Linked DNA regions of Homo sapiens. The protein of the gene in region 1 interacts with the protein of each later gene in a biochemical or structural test. Each region holds a gene or a part of one and is shown in the gene's direction. Other genes may lie near its edges. The genes, in order: SST and SSTR3.

Region 1 (3,909 bases):
AGGGAAAGAGCCGGGCTGACCCAAACCAAAGTCAGAAAATGATTGAGAAGAGCAAGAAAAACAAAGGAATGAGGATACAGAGTCAAGAGAGGAGACAAAAGAAGGATTGAGTGAGGAAAATTCTGAAACATAAATTTGCAGAAAGGTTAAGGAAAAGGAGGAATAAGAAGGAGGAGAAAGTGTAGAGGGAGAGCACAAGGATGTGGAAGGAGGGGAGCAAGCGTCTGGGGAAGGAGACAGAAGAGATCCTAGAGCACAGGGGAAGATGGGGAGCTGCTATTTGTTCTTCGGCTGGCTCCTGCTTTGGAAAAATCCTCGTTTCCTACTCAGTGGGTATGCCAAAGACCACATCCTGGGTACAGGAGATATGAGATCATTTGGAGGTACCTAGAGACAGTCACAGTGATAGAACTAAACTCTGAGTCCTTAGAGGCCAGAGAGAGTTGCAAGATTTAGAGAATATAACATGTATTTCCTAGGACTGGGTTCCACAGCTCCAGATTCATTGATCTCTTAGACTACTCCAACACATGTGAATGACTTTTTAATGCCCCACTTTGTGCTTAGTCTTGGCTGGCCTTGTCAAGACCTGGAAACTTTAACACTTCTTGCTGTGCATTTCCGCTTTGCCTTGGATTACAAGCACAAAAAGAAATAGTGACAATTATTCAAGCCATTCAGGATACTTCCCAAACCCTTCTGCCTCTCAACACTGTGGTTCGGGTCTAAGTACTGAGAATATTTTAATACCTAATATGAGCTTCGCATGGTTTCCAGAGATGCAGCATATCTTTTTAGCTAATATTGGCTTTTTTGAAGCTCATAAGATAACAGCTCTTAAAGATCCTGTAGGGATCATCTCGTCCATGCTAGGAAATTAGCTGGTCCTTCCTCAGTAAGGAACTATTTAGATAAAAGCAGTCAGAACTCTGGCCTGAACAGTAAACATTTAACCAGAGTTCAATCAGAATTCAAGGACAGGTTTTCTTAAACTTTCTTTGTTTCTAGGAGATCAGGCAGAGCTGAATTTAACCAAGAATCTTTTGATCCTTTCCACATATAGATATACAATAGTGGTCACATATGTTCTGGGAGTTCCTAGACCTTATATGTCTAAACTGGGGCTTCCTGACATAAAACTATGCTTACCGGCCAGGAATCTGTTAGAAAACTCAGAGCTCAGTAGAAGGAACACTGGCTTTGGAATGTGGAGGTCTGGTTTTGCTCAAAGTGTGCAGTATGTGAAGGAGAACAATTTACTGACCATTACTCTGCCTTACTGATTCAAATTCTGAGGTTTATTGAATAATTTCTTAGATTGCCTTCCAGCTCTAAATTTCTCAGCACCAAAATGAAGTCCATTTCAATCTCTCTCTCTCTCTTTCCCTCCCGTACATATACACACACTCATACATATATATGGTCACAATAGAAAGGCAGGTAGATCAGAAGTCTCAGTTGCTGAGAAAGAGGGAGGGAGGGTGAGCCAGAGGTACCTTCTCCCCCATTGTAGAGAAAAGTGAAGTTCTTTTAGAGCCCCGTTACATCTTCAAGGCTTTTTATGAGATAATGGAGGAAATAAAGAGGGCTCAGTCCTTCTACTGTCCATATTTCATTCTCAAATCTGTTATTAGAGGAATGATTCTGATCTCCACCTACCATACACATGCCCTGTTGCTTGTTGGGCCTTCCTAAAATGTTAGAGTATGATGACAGATGGAGTTGTCTGGGTACATTTGTGTGCATTTAAGGGTGATAGTGTATTTGCTCTTTAAGAGCTGAGTGTTTGAGCCTCTGTTTGTGTGTAATTGAGTGTGCATGTGTGGGAGTGAAATTGTGGAATGTGTATGCTCATAGCACTGAGTGAAAATAAAAGATTGTATAAATCGTGGGGCATGTGGAATTGTGTGTGCCTGTGCGTGTGCAGTATTTTTTTTTTTTTAAGTAAGCCACTTTAGATCTTGTCACCTCCCCTGTCTTCTGTGATTGATTTTGCGAGGCTAATGGTGCGTAAAAGGGCTGGTGAGATCTGGGGGCGCCTCCTAGCCTGACGTCAGAGAGAGAGTTTAAAACAGAGGGAGACGGTTGAGAGCACACAAGCCGCTTTAGGAGCGAGGTTCGGAGCCATCGCTGCTGCCTGCTGATCCGCGCCTAGAGTTTGACCAGCCACTCTCCAGCTCGGCTTTCGCGGCGCCGAGATGCTGTCCTGCCGCCTCCAGTGCGCGCTGGCTGCGCTGTCCATCGTCCTGGCCCTGGGCTGTGTCACCGGCGCTCCCTCGGACCCCAGACTCCGTCAGTTTCTGCAGAAGTCCCTGGCTGCTGCCGCGGGGAAGCAGGTAAGGAGACTCCCTCGACGTCTCCCGGATTCTCCAGCCCTCCCTAAGCCTTGCTCCTGCCCCATTGGTTTGGACGTAAGGGATGCTCAGTCCTTCTAAAGAGTTTTGGTGCTTTTCTGGGTCCCTCAGCTCCCGAAGCTCTTGAGAAAACTATCAAAGGCTAGAATCCCCTTCTAACTCTTTTTTTCCCCCATGATAAGCGCAGTCGGTCACAGTTCAGGTGAGTTCTTACTTGGCATTCAAGAAAATTACAAAATCTGGGTAGTTGTCTGGGCACGAAGCGACAATGGCGTCTATCCCTGGTGCTGACCCTGGGAAGCGCTGACCCAGGTGCTGAAACGCAGACCTCTGAAGCTGCTACCTCTTAGCGTACCTCACTTCCAAACGTCGGGACTAGGGCAAAGGGGCAATCTAAAGACCGAACGCCGTATGTTTGAGATTGTGAGAAGTCTCGTTCCCCTACAGTTTACTTGGTAAAAATGGTAAAACAATTCTACTTTGTAGCTCGTGATGTGAAAATTGAATTAAACTGTTGGCACACACTTTATCTTACCAGAACGGTCTTTATGTGTGTGTGTGTGTGTGTGTGTGTGTTTGTGCGTGTGTGTGTGTGTGTGTGTGTGTTAAGTCTACAGGGACAGAAAGGTTGCAGAAACATTTGAGCTCTTAAAGCCTTTTTGTGTAACTTGGTAATTATAGCAACTATCCTTATTTTTATATCCTTGATTGATTTTAAATGTGACAAAAAATGCGCAGCTGTAAAAACTGGATTTTGTGTGTGACCAAATCTGTTCTTTAATTTAGGCTTTTCAAATTTTTTCCATTGTCCTCCCCACTTCTCTTTCTCTCTTTTTCTATCCCTTCTGCCCTATACAGGAACTGGCCAAGTACTTCTTGGCAGAGCTGCTGTCTGAACCCAACCAGACGGAGAATGATGCCCTGGAACCTGAAGATCTGTCCCAGGCTGCTGAGCAGGATGAAATGAGGCTTGAGCTGCAGAGATCTGCTAACTCAAACCCGGCTATGGCACCCCGAGAACGCAAAGCTGGCTGCAAGAATTTCTTCTGGAAGACTTTCACATCCTGTTAGCTTTCTTAACTAGTATTGTCCATATCAGACCTCTGATCCCTCGCCCCCACACCCCATCTCTCTTCCCTAATCCTCCAAGTCTTCAGCGAGACCCTTGCATTAGAAACTGAAAACTGTAAATACAAAATAAAATTATGGTGAAATTATGAAAAATGTGAATTTGGTTTCTATTGAGTAAATCTTTTTGTTCAATAATACATAATAAGCTTGAGTGGCGGTTTCAGTAAAGTTATTTGAGATAGGTACTCCAATGTTCACAAACATCTATTTAAAATTCTCGGTGGCAATAAAGTTTACATTTTAAATGATAACTATTATAACATGAGTCATTTTAAACAGAAATAATTTCACATAACTCTATGCATTCAAACTTTAATTCAATGATAATTACTGGGAGAGGCTGACATAAACATTAATTACATATTAAGTACACCTAAATTATATGTTGGACTATTGAAATGAGTGTGTGTGAATAGTTAGGCTG
Region 2 (3,909 bases), on another chromosome or scaffold:
CGTAGGACATCATAGGATACTGCAGCTCACCAGCTTAGCCTGGCACCTGGCACAGTCAGGGCTCAGTGATGAGCAGCTGGCAGCACTGTTAGGATCCTCTAGCCCACTGTCCAGGTGCCCCTCCCTTAGTGCTGCTGTCCCAGGCTCAGGAGACCTGATGAAGGGTTGGGGAGAAGGATGGGTTGAGGACAGGTTAGGGGATGACCCAGGCTCAGAATCCTTCTCTTCTCCCAGCCCCAAGAACAGGGAGGAGATGCTCTGAACCCAGCCAGCTGGAGAAGCCACGGCCTAGGGGTTCCTTGCTACCCTTGGCTTCACCCAGCCTGGCACTCTGAGCCCGCTGCAGCCCCAGGTCCTTGGGGCAGGGGTAGCCAGGCGTGCTCAGAGGCGTTTGTTTGGATTTGGGGTGCCTTCCCTTCCCAGGAGCTTTGCACATCAACAGTGACATCCATATAGGGCAGTGCGGACCACAGCTCCCATTGGAGGGAGGAAGTGCAGGCCCAGTGTCAGGGATATTAGAAGAAGGGCTTCTCCTCTGAGAGATTTATCTTCCCTTCAGGGTTTTCTGCAGGGAGAATCCAAGGACAGCCAGGAGCCAGGGGATTGGGGGATCATTAGGAAGAGGGGGTGCAGTGGGTGGTCCAGACCCCAGAGGAGGCTCCTGCATCCAGCCTGGCTCTGCCTGGGCCTCCTCCTGAGCGTGGCTTTCCTCAGTGGGGCCTGACATTCCCCCTTGGCACTGGGCTTGGTCCACTGAAGGCTTCTCTGGTTCATTTGATGCCTGACACTGAGGCAGAGCTCGTGCCTGTGCGGAAGTGATGGGGCAGAAAGCAATGGGGAGGGTCCAAAGCTGGCTGGAGACTCCACAGGGGAGGGGATCAGAGTCTCGCAGGGGAGCCCAGAGGAGCCCCAGCTTCTTCTGCGCAGGCATGGGATGAGAAAGACACTAAGAAAGCACCTGGAGTGCGGGGGGGCTCTTGCTTATGCTGCAAATCCCTTCTGAAAATGTCCCCTTTTCCAGGCAGCTGGCCCCTCCAGCCAGGGGGAGGGACTACTCTTGGATAGCATCTGCTAAGTGAATTGTAAAGTTCTCCAACCCCAGCCGGCCTCTGGGGAGAAGGGGCCTCAGCCACCTGCCCCCCAGGTTCACAGCCAACCTTCCTGGGCAGGGCCTTTGGGAGGGGCACAGTGGGATGGCCCAGGCTGAGGGGGCACCTAAGGACTCTGACTCCCAGGGGAGGGGACACCCCAAGCCTGTGGTTCTTAACTCCATTTGGAACCTGAAGAATCTGATAACAGATCTGACATTAACCTTCACCTGGAGTTTAGGGCGTTCATGGATCCTCTGAAGTTCATCTAGGGAGCAGGTTTCCAGGTGAAGGTCCTGTGATATGAAGCAGTGTTTTTCAGATGTGAGGGCGAGACCTGTTGGTGGCAATGCAACCCACTTCACAGGGCCCTGCCAGCTGGGGCCTCACATGTAGAAAGGAAGGGCAGGTATTTGTTGGTGAAACAGTATGACTTCATGCCACACACCACACCCTCACTCCACGATGGAGAATGATCACCTCACCTCCCTGAGCCTCAGTTTCCTCATCTGAGAAAAGGGGATAACACGACTCAGCCTTGCGGGGCTGTGCGGGGTGAATGAGATGGTGCGTGCTAAGCACCTCCCATCTTCTGAAATCTCTCAGACGATGGGAGGATGGGCGTGCAGCAGGTCCCCAGGTTCGGCATGATGGGAGGGGGCAGCACAGAGAAAGCCATTCTCTGCTGTGACCGAGCTGTTTTTCCTTCCCCCAGGCAAATAGCTGACTGCTGACCACCCTCCCCTCAGCCATGGACATGCTTCATCCATCATCGGTGTCCACGACCTCAGAACCTGAGAATGCCTCCTCGGCCTGGCCCCCAGATGCCACCCTGGGCAACGTGTCGGCGGGCCCAAGCCCGGCAGGGCTGGCCGTCAGTGGCGTTCTGATCCCCCTGGTCTACCTGGTGGTGTGCGTGGTGGGCCTGCTGGGTAACTCGCTGGTCATCTATGTGGTCCTGCGGCACACGGCCAGCCCTTCAGTCACCAACGTCTACATCCTCAACCTGGCGCTGGCCGACGAGCTCTTCATGCTGGGGCTGCCCTTCCTGGCCGCCCAGAACGCCCTGTCCTACTGGCCCTTCGGCTCCCTCATGTGCCGCCTGGTCATGGCGGTGGATGGCATCAACCAGTTCACCAGCATATTCTGCCTGACTGTCATGAGCGTGGACCGCTACCTGGCCGTGGTACATCCCACCCGCTCGGCCCGCTGGCGCACAGCTCCGGTGGCCCGCACGGTCAGCGCGGCTGTGTGGGTGGCCTCAGCCGTGGTGGTGCTGCCCGTGGTGGTCTTCTCGGGAGTGCCCCGCGGCATGAGCACCTGCCACATGCAGTGGCCCGAGCCGGCGGCGGCCTGGCGAGCCGGCTTCATCATCTACACGGCCGCACTGGGCTTCTTCGGGCCGCTGCTGGTCATCTGCCTCTGCTACCTGCTCATCGTGGTGAAGGTGCGCTCAGCTGGGCGCCGGGTGTGGGCACCCTCGTGCCAGCGGCGGCGGCGCTCCGAACGCAGGGTCACGCGCATGGTGGTGGCCGTGGTGGCGCTCTTCGTGCTCTGCTGGATGCCCTTCTACGTGCTCAACATCGTCAACGTGGTGTGCCCACTGCCCGAGGAGCCTGCCTTCTTTGGGCTCTACTTCCTGGTGGTGGCGCTGCCCTATGCCAACAGCTGTGCCAACCCCATCCTTTATGGCTTCCTCTCCTACCGCTTCAAGCAGGGCTTCCGCAGGGTCCTGCTGCGGCCCTCCCGCCGTGTGCGCAGCCAGGAGCCCACTGTGGGGCCCCCGGAGAAGACTGAGGAGGAGGATGAGGAGGAGGAGGATGGGGAGGAGAGCAGGGAGGGGGGCAAGGGGAAGGAGATGAACGGCCGGGTCAGCCAGATCACGCAGCCTGGCACCAGCGGGCAGGAGCGGCCGCCCAGCAGAGTGGCCAGCAAGGAGCAGCAGCTCCTACCCCAAGAGGCTTCCACTGGGGAGAAGTCCAGCACGATGCGCATCAGCTACCTGTAGGGGCCTGGGGAAAGCCAGGATGGCCCGAGGAAGAGGCAGAAGCCGTGGGTGTGCCTAGGGCCTACTTCCCAAGGTGCCACAGGCCCATGATGGGATGTTGAGGGGCCTGGACTTTGATGCTATTGCTGCCAGGTCTTGCTGTGTGACCTTGGGTAGGTTGCTTCTACTCTCTGGGCCTTGTTTTCTCCTCTGTGACTCAGGGATAGGAGTCATCAGCCTGGATGAGCTATGTCAGATGAGAGGTTTGGAGGGCACTGTTGCTGGGCTGACCTGGCTGAGCAGGCAAAAGGTGGGTGCAGACTGGCCTCCCCCCAGGGATGGAGTGTCTTGGGGCATCAACTAGAATCTTGGCCCTCAGAGGGATAAACCAAGGCCAGGATTTCTTGGGCTCAGAGTCAGGAACACAGGAGCTGCTGGGGGCTGGGCTGGAAACCTAAACAGAAGAAAGCCTAACCCGGTGGGAGGAGTGGGGCAGAAATGGTCAGGCCCCAGATCAGCTCCCTCCCCTCGACTGTGAGGCCTTGGACCAGCTCTGCTCCTCTCTAGGCCTCAGGCTTCACCTGGGTAAAACCCAACAACCTCTACACCCTTTTGGCCCAGGCAGTCAATGCTGGAGGTCCTGTGCTCCTGGACGGGAAGAGCAGGTGAATTTCCTGCTCATGGAAGCGAATGAAGTCCAGCTTCAGGGTCTCTCACTGCCTGGGCTTTTGCAAGGCCCTGCATCTACTTTTGTACTTGTCATTTTGTATTCGTTTTCTTAAAGAGGGACCTCGAACTGCATAAGCTTAGGCCACCCAAAGCCTGGCTCTGCCC

What was found.
Region 2: the proteins of SST (region 1) and SSTR3 interact in a test that uses a peptide from one of them, tested with the Homo sapiens proteins (one study listed by BioGRID).

The regions. Positions count from the first base shown.
Region 1 is NC_000003.12:187,668,581-187,672,489, reverse strand, and holds SST (somatostatin preproprotein), read left to right. Parts: upstream 1-2,095; 5' UTR 2,096-2,198; coding exon 2,199-2,336; intron 2,337-3,212; coding exon 3,213-3,425; 3' UTR 3,426-3,578; downstream 3,579-3,909.
Region 2 is NC_000022.11:37,205,734-37,209,642, reverse strand, and holds part of SSTR3 (somatostatin receptor type 3), read left to right. Parts: intron 1-1,803; 5' UTR 1,804-1,839; coding exon 1,840-3,096; 3' UTR 3,097-3,909.